Regions from separate parts of the Homo sapiens genome. Here all the other regions are linked to region 1. Evidence: fine-mapped expression QTL. A gene starts in region 1. Each other region holds a variant in brackets. All regions are shown on one strand. Distances are between the middles of the regions.

Region 1 (4,047 bases):
GGGTAAAATGAGGCTGAGATCTGCTGGGCTGCATTCCCAGACAGTTAAGGCATTCTATGTCACAGGATGAGATAAGAGGTCGGCACAAGCTACAGGTCATAAAGACCTTACTGATAAAACAGTTTGCAGTAAAGAAGCTGACCAAAACCCACCAAACCAACATGGCGATGAGTGTGACCTCTGGTCGTCCCAGCTGCTACACTCCCACCAGCGCCGTAAGTTTACAAATGCCATAGCAATGCCAGGACGTTACCCTAAAGGGTTTAAAAAGGTAAGGCACGAATAATCCACCCCTTGTTTAGCATATCATCAAGAAATAACCACAAAAATGGGCAACCAGCAGCCCATGCTGCTCTGCCTATGGAGTAGCCATTCTTTATTCTGTTACTGGTGGAGGGTGTCCAGGTTCTTGGCATCTTGAACAAAGAATTGGACAAAATGCACAAAGCCACCGGGCGCGGTGGCTCACACCTATAATCCCAGCACTTTGGGAGGCCGAGGCGGGCAGATCACCTGAGGTCAGGAGTTCAAGACCAGCCTGGCCAACATGGCGAAACCTCGTCTCTACTAAAAACACAAAAGTTAGCCGGGCATGGTGACGCACGTCTGTAATCTCAGCTACTCAGGAGGCTGAGGCAGGAGAATTGCTTGAACCCGGGAGGCAGAGGTTGCAGTGAGGATCACGCCACTGCACTCCAGCATGGACAACAGAGACTCTGTCTCAAAAAAAAAAAAATGCACAAAGCAAAAAAAGAATGAAGCAACAAAAGCAGAAATTTTTTGAAAATGAAAGTACATTCCATGGTGTGGGGGCGGCCAAAGCATAGAGGCTCAGGGCCCCATTACAGAACTTGTGAGGTTTAAATACCCTCTAGGGGTTTCTACTGGTTACTTGGTGTACGCCCTATGTAAATAAAGAGGATGAAATAAAGTTACAAAATCATTTACTCAGTGTACACCCTATGGAGAGGGTATTTCCTGTCATAGCTGAAGTGTTCCCTGCCTCCAGACCCTGTTTTCCTGCCTCAATTCCTTTACTTTTCTAATAAACTTGCTTTCACTTTGTGGACTCGCCCTCAATTCTCTCTTGGGGTCTGGATCGGGACCCCTTTCTGGTAATATAGACAGAAAATACGGCCTTGACATGGTTGTCAGGAAACGACAGTAAGGCCTCCGAGGGTGGGGTTCTGAAGGGATGTTAAACGCCCCACCCCGAGGAAGGCTCTGGAGGCTCCAATCACTTTCAGCCTCTGCTACCAAGATGTCCGACCCTACCAATAAAACTTCCAGCAGCGGGGCGCGGTGGCTCACGCCTGTAATCCCAGCACTTTGGGAGGCCGAGGAAGGCAGATCACCTGAGGTCAGGAGTTCAAGACCAGCCTGACCGACATGGTGAAACCCCATCTCTACTAAAAATTTAAAAAGTTAGCCGGGCCTGGTGGCGCACGCCTGTAATCCCAGCTACACAGGAGGCTGAGGCAGGAGAATTGCTTGAACCAGGGAGGCGGAGGCTGCAGTGAGCCGAGATCGCGCCACTGCACTCCAGCCTGGGTGACACAGCAAGACTCCGTCTCAAACAAAACAAAACAAAAAACCTTCCAGCTTGGAGAAACTGAGAGTGAGCAGTAGGGAGTGAGGGGGTCCCTGGGAGGAACCAGAACTCATCCCGCTTCAGGGTGGGGCTGGCCCCCTTCTTGGCCTTGGCCGGGGCTTCGTGTCACGGAGCGCCCGAGGGACGGTCGGAGCCCACCCCAGCCCGCCCGCCGCCTGAGCCTGGCCGAGCTCTCTGCACCTGCACACGTCTGTAAAACGCGGATGAAACGCTTCTACGGAACCGGGTGGCTGAGATGAAGTGAGTTATGGGTATAAAGCGCTTAGAGCGATGCCTGGCGGACACTCGGTGCCAAATAAGCGTTCGCTGTGGCGACGATGACGCCTCCAGCCCAAAGCCCGTGGTCGAGCAGGGCCGGGCTCCCAGCGCTAGGGGGTTCCTAGGCGCGGCGCTTCGGGGGTCCTGGACACAGACACGGGGGACAGAGCTCCTACCAGCGACGATCCCGAGGGTCTGCAGCAGAGGGGCTGAGGCCCGGGACGGGGGTGGTCGCAGCGCCCTTTCCTGAAAAAACGGGGTTCGGCTCTAAGGCGCCCCCAAGCCCTGCCGGCAGCGCGGAACCCGAGCCGCTCAGAAGCCCGGGAGCCCCAAGTCTCCGGGACCAGAAGCGCCGCGGCCCTGACTTCCGGAAGGTGGACGGAACCCGCGGACGGGGCGGGCCCGCGTGGCGCACGCAGAGCCACTTCCGGGCGCGGCGCCGGCTTGGTGAGCGCGGGTACCCGCGGGCTTCCCCGGGCGGCTGCGTCCCCAGTAGCCCGGCCGGCCTCGGCACCGCGTGTCGTGGGGGTCCCGGGCCGCGGCTGCAGGGCCGGGGCGGCGGCGAGGCCGAGGGGCGGGAAGCCACTGCCCGGCCTGGCAGTGTGAACGTGCAAGTCGATCCCCTAACCCAGAAAGCCCCAGGCGCGGTCTCTATGGGCGGCCCCGCTCCTGCTTCTGTTTTATTTTTTTACGGACAGGGTCTCGCTCTACCGCCCGGGTTGTAATGCAATGGTGTGATCACGGCTCACCGCAGCCTCGACCTCCCGGGCTGAAGCGATCTTCCCGCCTCAGCCTCCTGAGTAACTGGGACCACAGGCGCGCCCTGCTGGTTTTTTTTTTTTTTTTTTTTGGTAGAGATGGGGGTCTCGCTATGTTGGCCAGGCTGGTCTCGAATTCCTGGCCTCAACGATCGTCCTGTCTCGGCCTCCCAAAGTGCCGGGATGACAGGCATGAGCCACCGCGCCTGGCCCCTTCTTTTGAATGGGCCTCCTTGCGTTTCCGTTTCAATGCCCCGTGCTACTTTTTTGGGAGCCCCAAGGCTGTACTGTTTGATTGACTCCTTTTTTTCCCCTTTCTTTTTAACCTAAATTAAAGCTGCCACTGCAGAGCCCCGCCATGGAAGACACGCCGTTGGTGATATCGAAGCAGAAGACGGAGGTGGTGTGCGGGGTCCCCACCCAGGTGGTGTGTACGGCCTTCAGCAGTCACATCCTGGTGGTGGTGACCCAGTTTGGGAAGATGGGCACCCTGGTCTCCCTGGAGCCCAGCAGCGTGGCCAGTGACGTCAGCAAGCCTGTGCTCACCACAAAAGTCCTTCTGGGGCAGGATGAGGTAAAGTGGATTGGCCGGGAACTGTGGCTCACGCCTGTAACCCTAGCACTTTCAGAGGCCTAGGCGGGCAGATCGCTTGAGGCCAGGAGTTTGAAACCAGCCTGGGCAACACAACAACACACACACAAGTCACTACAAAAAAACAAGTGCCTACACAAAATATATATATAGAGAGAGGCTGGGTGCAGTGGCTCACACCTGTAATCCCAGCACTTTGGGAGGCTGAGGCGGGCAGATCACTTAAGGTCAGAAGTTCCAGACCAGCCTGGCCAACATGGGGAAACCCCATTTCTACGAAAAATATAAAAATTAGCTGGGTGTGGTGGCACATGCCTGTAATCTCAGCTACTCAGGAGGCTGAGGCAGAAGAATCGCTTGAACCCGAGAGGCGGAGGTTGCAGTGAGCTAAGATCGTGCCACAGCACTCCAGCCTGGGTAACAGATAGAGACTTGGTCTTAAAAAAAAAAGGAAAAGAAAAGGAAACAAAAAATTAGCTGGGCCTAGTGGTGTGTGCCTGTGCTCCCAGCTACTTGGGAGGCTGAGGTGGGAGGATGGCTTGAGCCCTGGAGGTTGAGGCTGCAGTGAGCCATGATTGTGCCACTGCGCTCCAGCCTGGGTGAGAGAGCAAGACTCTGTCTTTAATAATAATAATAATAATAATAATAATAAAGTGGTCAGGAAGGGACCCCCAGGGAGGAGCATAAACCTCTCCAGTGGCTGTGATTTGTCAGTAAGGACATGGGGCATCTGGCGGACAAATACCCCTACAGCGATAGCATTTTCCGGGCATTTGTGGGTCTCAAGGCGCCCTGCTTGCCCTCAGTGGATGCTTTGTCCAGCCCGC
Region 2 (4,047 bases), 22 kb before region 1:
GGCATAGAGGAGAGAGGGATGGAGGGAGGAGGGAAAGAAGAAGGAGGAGGGAGAAAAAAGGGGGGAAGAAGGGGGAAGAAAAGGGGCAGGAAGCAGGGAAGGAGGGAGGAAGGAGGGCAGACTAGCGCCCTTGGCCTGGGGCTGTGTCCCTCTGGGGTGGTGACCTTGGGACCATCTCGGAAAGGCAGAGAACCTGGGGCACTATCAGCAGAGGTGCTTCTGGGCTTGGGGGTCTCCTGCGGGGGCTCCAGTCCACCCTGCCTGGATAGCAGCTTCCCAAGGGCCCAAGGTGCCAGGGCTGGGCTCTGGCTTCTCTCCCCATGTTCAGAGGCCTCCTTCCTTCCCCTTGGCCAGCAGGGGGCTCACAAGGAGGTCCTGCAGGCGTCCTGCTAACTCCCTGCCCAGCCTCTGTGAGCACCGCCCTGAGGCAAGGTGGGTCTGGCTGCCCCGAGGCCTGGGGGCCGCCCGGCCTGGTCACACACAGGCATCCTGCACTCAATCTGCCCCAAGCCTCCCTCCCCCCAGCCTTTGTCCCATGCCATGCCCCCTGCCAGGGATGCCCTCCCCAATGCTACTGTCCACTTGGACCCCCAGGGAGAGTCTCTCCTCTGTACCCACACCAAATCACAGGAATACAGCCTGATCTGGGACCGGGCATGTTCTAGCTTGTGTGATAGCTTCCTATTCACACCTTTTATCCTCCAAACCTAATTGAAATCCCAGAGACCCAGATTGTCATCTCACAGCCACCGTCGTCACCGTCCGGGTGCCCTGGGGCCCGTCGCCTTCTGAGCCTTGGTTTTCTGGGGTTACGATGGAGACTGCGGGGGTGTGCGAAGCTTCAGAGTACAGTAACCAGGTGTCACAGAGGTGCACGGAGCACGGGACATGCTGAAAGGGGCTGGTTGCCCTCTTCTTCCTGGGAAAGGGCTCTGAGCCTCAGATTCCAGACCCCTGGAAAGGACGGACAAAAAGGTGAGAGCACAGCTGCCTCGGTCTTGCTGTTTCCAGGTAAACAGTTCTATGGACTCGATGGAGGAGCCTGGCTCCCCCCTACCCATACATGGTCTCCGAAGATGTTCCCGGACAAGGCACTCCCCAGCCGCCCCCTCTCCACGCCCCCACCTGCTACGTCCTGTCCTCTGAACAACAGAAGCAGGGGAGGACGAGGCGTTTGAGGAGTTCAGGGAGTTGGAAGAGAGTTAGCAGATTTCTGAGAACCCCAGGTGCAGCTTAACCTACAAATGGAAAATTATGGTGATGAGAAAGAGGATCTTTGATGAGGCAGAGTCTTGGGGGAATCGGATTTTGGCTGACGTGCAAGAAAAAGGCAGGCTGGGCGGGGAGGCAGGAAGAGGCAGGTGTCCCTGCAGGGAAAGGGGGCGGTGGAGGTGGGAAGCGTGTCCTGAGCGGATGTGGGTGGGGGCGAACAACGGGAGGTGCCCCCCAAGGCCTCGGGGACCCCATTTCCTGCACTGCCAGCTGCCAGCCCTGGGGACCACTGAAGAGAGCTTGGACCCGCCTGGCTGGCTGTTTACGTCTCACCCATCATGCATTAAGCATGCACCTGCTGGGTGCCCCCAGTGACTCCTGGTGCCACCGAGGTACTTCCATAGAGTGCGTGTCTGTCCCCACACCCCCGCAGAGTGGGCTGCTCCTGCCCGCCCGGCCCCACCACCCACTCCCACTGTTGCATGGCCTCTTGTAGCTAGACGCCAGCTGGCCGGTCTCTGGGTGGGCCGCCACGGCTCTTCCCATCCTTCGCGCCCCATTTTTCCTGCCCAGTCATGAGTAGAGTGGATTTCCATCCCCGGAGGGCTGGGCCAGCCATGCTTCCTGTCGGCCGGTGGCATGCAGTGAGGACGTCCCACCTTCGGAAGCATGACCTCAGGAAGTCCCCAGTTTCTGCTGAGATCCTGAGATGCCCAAGAAGGAAACCAGTCCAGCCTCCCGCAGGCAGAGCCCTGTGAGGGGCCGCGGCGCCTCGGACCACCAGCTGGATGCTGCGGGGAGGGGAACTCCCCACCACCCGCCAACCCACAGCCGTCTGACTGATGTGGGCTCCCGGCGAGGGAGGCTGCAGCCTCCCAGACAGCTCTGGCTCAGGCTGGGTGGCTGGGAAGTGCACATAGATTAGCCAGGGTTCTCCAGAGACACAGAACCAAAGGATATATGTGTGTGTCTGTGTGTGCATGTGTGTACAGAGACACAGAGACAGAGACAGACAGAGAGAGAGAGAGAGAGAGACAGAGAGAGATCTACATGGGAATCGGCTCACAGAATCACAGAGGCTGAGAAGCCCCACCATCTGCT[G/A]TCTGCAAGCTGGAGGCCCAGGGAAGCCAGTGGAGCAATTCAGTCCAAGTTTGAAGGCCTGAGAACAGGAGCTCGATGTCCAAAGTCAGGAGGAGATGGATGTCCCAGCACAGGAAGAGAGAGAATTCCCTCCCCTGCCTTTGTCCCGGGGGAGGCCTCAGTGGTTTGGGTGACACCTGCCCACATTGGGGAGGGTGGACTTGTCTACTTGGTCTGCTGATTCAAGTGCTGATCCCTTCTGGAAACTTGGGGGAATGGGATTTTGGCTGTCGTGCAAGGAAAAGGCAGGCTGGGCGGGGAGGCAGGAAGAGGCAGGTGGTCCTGCAGGGAGAAGGGGCGGTGGAGGTGGGAAGCGTGTTCTGAGCAGATGTAGGTGGGGGCAAACAACGGGAGGTGCCCCCCAAGGCCTCAGAGACCACAAGACCTGCTAGCTGCCAGCCCCGGGGACTGCTGAAGAGAGCTTGGACCCACCCGGCTGGCCATTACAGCCTCACAGACACGCCCAGAAGTGATGTTTTTTACCAGCTCTCTAGGCGCCACTTACCCCAGTCAAGTTGACTCCTAAAATGAATATCACAGCCAGGTCAGAGGTATGCACAGACTTTCCCTCTGAATTCCCTCGACGCCCTTTGAAGGGGTCCTATTATTATTCCCATCTTATAAAAGAGGATGTTTGAGAGTTTCAGTGATGGCTCCTGACCACACAGCTCAGGGCGGTGAAGCCCAGACACACATCAGCCTTCACGCCTGGGCTCTCAAGTTCTCCCCAGCCTGGTTTTCTCTGAACCCAACCCAAGTCTCTCCACTCCTGAGGGATGATACATGCCCACCCCTCTCCGGAAGCCTCCACGCCCACCCTCTCCTTCCACTTCTCCCAGCTGCATCTCCCAGCCACGCTGCCTCTGACCTGTCTTCCCCAGACCCAGCCTCATTTCTCCAGACCCCGGGCCCCTATCTCCCCTTTCCTCTGCCATTTGGCAGATTTGCTATGTGGCCCCGGGAACACAGTCTTCAGCAATCTCTGTCTAGCACGGTGCAGGGAATTAAAGGTGACTCACACCTGTAATCCCAACAACTTTGAGAGGCCGGGGTGGGAAAATCCCTTGAGTCCAGGAGTTTGAGATCAGCCTAGGCAGCATCTCCAGATCCCTTTGCTACAAAAACATTAAAATTAGCCAGGCTTGGTGGCATGCACCTGTAGTCCCAACTACTCTGGAGGCTGAAGTGGGAGGATCGCTTAAGCCCAGATGGTTGAGACTGCAGTGAGCTTTGATGGTGCCACTGCACTCCAGCCTGGGTGACAGAGCAAGACCCTGTCTACAAACAAACAAATGAACAGAAAAAAGACTGCAAATTCTTTGCCCCCCTCCCATTGAGAGGAAGCTGTTCCCCCTCCCGTTGAATCTGTGGGCTCCGGGCTCCATCAAGAGCATGTGGGGACTGAGTCATTTGTTCACCCGCGTTCACAGCAGCACCGTCCCCAACAGCCAAAAGGGGAAAGCAGCCCAAGTGTCGTGGACCGATGAATGGATACACAAAACGTGGTCCTTCCACACAGTGGAGCATTACTCAGCCTTCAAAAGGAATGAAGGCTGGGCACAGTGGCTCACGCCTATAATCCCAGCACTTTGGGAGGCCAAGGCGGGGGGGATCACCTGCCTGAGGTCAGGAGTTCAAGACCAGCCTGGCCAACATGGTGAAACCCCGCCTCTACTAAAAATACAAAAATTAGCT
Region 3 (4,047 bases), 48 kb before region 1:
GGAGCTTGCGGTGAGCCGACGTTGCGCCACCGCACTCCAGCCTGGGCAACAGGAGCAAAACTCCACTTCAAAAAATTAAAAAATTAAAAAATTAAAAATAAATAAAAGGAGCCCCAGAGGGCTCCCTCACCCCTTTCCCACAAGAGGGCACGGCGGGAAGGTGTCGCCTATGACCCAGGAAGCCTTCGGCAGACACGGAGCCTGCCGGGGCCTGGATCTTGTGTCTGCCTCGAACCTGTTTTTCCGGGTTCTTCGCTGCCCGTGGCCGCCCCGTCGGAGGCTCCAGGGTGCAGTTCACCTGCTGGCTTCATCACGGCCTCCTGAGCCCTGAGGCCCGGGCGGGGGCGGGAGAGCAAGTCCAGGGTCACAGGCGTGGAGGGGTGCTCCGCGTGAGATGCGGCCCTCCTCCGAGGCGGTTCGGATGAGGGGGACCCCCGAGAGCGATGGGGACTTGGGGTCCCCGGGAGGAGTTAGCAGTAAAGCAGCCGCCACGGTGGGGACCCTGCAGGTGGCCAGGGAGGGCTGGATGCGGTCTCCTCTCCCACCGGCCCATCTCCCTGCCCCCAGCACAGGACGGGCTCGCGTGGGGGGCTGACGGGAGCTCAGGGGCCGGTCAGGCCCACCCCTCACTCCCCGGTCCAGGCCTGGGGGCGACAGCAACTGCGGGCATTGGAGGAGGCCGTCTGACGCGCAGCCAGACCCCGCCACAGAGAGTGACCCGGAGGCCCAGGGCCCCGCTCGGGCGGGTGAGGGTTCCTGCACGACGCCAGCTTCCGGGGGAAGCGGAAGCTGCTCACACTCACGGCTCCACCCAGGTGGGGCCCTTCAATAACTCGGTTCCGCTAACGTGGTGCCGGCTTCACACACCGGCTCCCCCGCCGCTCAGACGGTTCCAGCTGTCCTTCTCCCCTCCTCGCGTTCTTACCAACGCACTTGGGGCTGGAGAACCCTCGCGCCACCCACACTCACACACACACCTACATGTACATACACCCTACACACACACACCTACACACACCTACACACACCCCGACACACATACACCTACACACAACCCCTACACACACCTACACACCCCTATACACACACACCTACACACACCTACACACACCCCTACACACACCTACACACCCCTATACACACACCGCCACACACCCCTACATAACACACACCCCTACATACACACACACCTACACACACCCCTACACACACATACAGCTACACACACCCCTACACACCCCTACACACCCCTACACACACCCCTACATACACACACACCTACACACACACATACACACACATACACCTACACACACCCCTACACACACCTACACACACTACATAACACACCCCCCCACATACACACACCTACACACACCCCTATACACACACCTACACACACCCCTACATAACACACACCCCTACATACACACACACCTACACCCCCTACATACACACACAACCCTATACACACATACACACATACACCTACACACACCTACGCACACCTATGCACACCTACATGTACACACACCCTACACACCTACACACACCCCTCCACACACCTACACACACACCTACACACACACACCCCTCATAACACACACCCCCTACATACACTCACACCTACACCCCCTACATACACAACCCTACACACACATACCCCTACACACACCTACACACACCTACGCACACCTATGCACACCTACATGTACACACACCCCTACACGCACACACCTACACACATACACCCCTACATACACACACCCCTACACACACCCCTACATACACACACCCCCTACATACACACACACCCCTACACACATACCCCCTACATACACACACACACAGGCACACACACACCTGCAGAGGCACACACACCCCTACATACACACACACACCTATATACACCTACACAGACACACACACACACACCCCTACACACACATACATCTACACAGGCACACACACACACCCTACATACACACCCCTACATACACACACACCTACATACACACCTACACAGACACACACACCCCTACACACACACATCTACACAGGCGCACACACACACCCCTACATACACACATCCCTACATACAAACACACACCCCTACACAGACACACTCCTACACACTGGTCTCCCAGCCTGTGCCTCTCCCCGTGGAGTGCCCCCTCCACCCTGCAGCCGAGGAGCCCCCAGCCCTGTGTGGGACCAAGGCTTCAAAGCCCCCACTGACCCCACCACCCATAAGATCAAAAGCGAAATTCCTCGGTGGGTCAGTTTGCTTGGGCCGCCATAACAAACTCTCACAGACCAGGTGGCTGAAACAACAGACGTTTATTTCCCACGATCCTGGAGGCTGGAAGTCCAACATCAAGGTGTGGGTGGGGCTGGATCCCCTGAGGCCTCCTCCTCAGCTTCCAGACAGCATCTTCTCCCCATGTCCTCA[C/G]GTGATTGTCCTTCCGTGAGCATCTGTGTCCTAATCTCCTCTTCTTAGAAGGACTCCAGTCAGATTGGATCAGAGCCCACCCTAGTGACCTCATTTTCCCTCCATTATCTCTTTAAAGACCGTGTCTCTGGCCAGACACCGTGGCTCGTGCCTGTAATCCCAGCACTTTGGGAGACTGAGGCAGGAGGATTGCTTGAGGGCAGGAGTTCAAAACCAGCCTGGGCAACATAGTAAGACCCCATCTCTACAAAAGAATTTTTAAAAATTAGCCAGGCATGGTGGTGCATGCCTGTGGTCCCAGCTACTTAGGAGGCTGAGGCAGGAGCATTGCTTGAGCCCAGGAGGTGGAGGCTACAGTGAGTCCTGATAGGGCCATTGCACTCCAGCCTGGGTGACAGGGTGAGACCCTGTCTCCAAAAAATAAAATAAAATAAAATAAAAATAAAAATAAAAATAAAAAGATTCTGTCTCCAAATACAGCCATATTCTGAGGTCCTGGGGGTGAGAACTTTGGCGTATGAATTTGAGGGAGACACAATTTACCCCATGACGCAGGGCATGAGATTGAAAGGCCTTCGCAATCCAGGCACCATCTTCCTTCCCAAAGCCAGATCCCGGGGGCCATGTGGGGTGTCCTGAAAGCGGGAAAGTTTGCCATGGTGGCCCCCAGTGGAGGTCCTGGCATCCTTGTCTCTGGAGGTCAGAAATTCTTAAAGTAAGCGTGGGCTGCCCTCCCTGCCCTGGGCCTCCTGTCCACTTGAAAGCACACACAGGAGTGGGCTTGGTCCAGGCTGGGGGAGGAGGAAGGTGCCCTGGACCAGGAACCCAAACACCAAGGGAGCAGCAATGGGGAAGTGTTCTGTCCTGGCCCCACACGCTGGCAGACCATGCTGGTGCTCCACACGTCATCACTGTCACAGCAACTCTGCAGGGCAGGAGGTGTGACCCCAGTTCACAGATGAGGAAACAGAGGCTCCTCAAGGACGCAGGGCTCACCCGAGGTCACACTCAGGAGGGAAGAGCTGCATGTGGGCCCACAGGTTCGAGTGCCTGTTATGCAGTCACAGTCCAATGCGCGGAGGCAGCAGGGTTTGCAGCAGAGAAAGAGTTTCAGGATCGCTGGGAGCCAAGCAGGGAGATGGGAGGAGACCCTCAAATCCATCTCCCCAAGGAGTTCTGAACTGGGGTGTTTTGGGTTTTTTTTTTTTTTTTGGTTGTGTTCCAATAAACTTTATTTATGAACACTAAATATTCATGTTAATTTTCATGTATCATAAAAGTCTTTAAAAACAAAGCATTTAAAATTATAAACACAATTCCTAGCTCACAGGACACAGAAAGCAGGCAGCAGGCTGGATTTGGTCCACAGGCCATAGTTGGCTGTCTCTTATACAGGCTTTAATACGTTATGCAAAGTGTTTCAAATTCCAGAGACTTTGGATACTTCTCTTTTTTTTAGATTTCTCATTTTAAAATATATACAATGCAAGTTTTCTTTCTGGATCAATATACTCGCATGAGAGAAAATAATTCAGAAAAAAATATATTTCCTTACTTAAAAAAAGGGAAAGGCACCAGGCATGGTGGCTCATGCC

The links. PIP is the estimated chance that this variant, and not a neighbour inherited with it, causes the effect. A credible set is the group of variants that fine-mapping cannot tell apart.
Region 2: its variant is the best candidate, but not a certain one, in a credible set for the expression of PSMG3-AS1 in aorta (GTEx, PIP 0.83).
Region 3: its variant is the best candidate, but not a certain one, in a credible set for the expression of PSMG3-AS1 in stomach (GTEx, PIP 0.59).

The regions. Positions count from the first base shown.
Region 1 is chr7:1,568,279-1,572,325 of GRCh38, reverse strand. PSMG3-AS1 (PSMG3 antisense RNA 1) reads right to left here and starts at 2,253. Exons shown (of 5, transcript NR_027329.1): 1 at 2,047-2,253. It overlaps PSMG3 (proteasome assembly chaperone 3), which reads left to right and starts at 2,294. Exons shown (of 2, transcript NM_032302.4): 1 at 2,294-3,202. The coding sequence starts at 2,987. RefSeq lists enhancers at 1,243-1,292, 1,303-1,372, 1,996-2,564 and silencers at 1,673-1,752, 2,193-2,622.
Region 2 is chr7:1,590,010-1,594,056 of GRCh38, reverse strand. It overlaps LOC105375123 (a long non-coding RNA gene), which reads right to left and starts at 1,618. Exons shown (of 8, transcript XR_001745048.2): 1 at 1,126-1,618; 2 at 745-954. RefSeq lists an enhancer at 268-317. The variant G/A (reference allele first, on the strand shown) is at 2,314.
Region 3 is chr7:1,616,313-1,620,359 of GRCh38, reverse strand. It overlaps LOC105375303 (a long non-coding RNA gene), which reads right to left and starts at 765. Exons shown (of 2, transcript NR_165252.1): 1 at 236-765. It also overlaps the pseudogene TFAMP1. The variant C/G (reference allele first, on the strand shown) is at 2,453.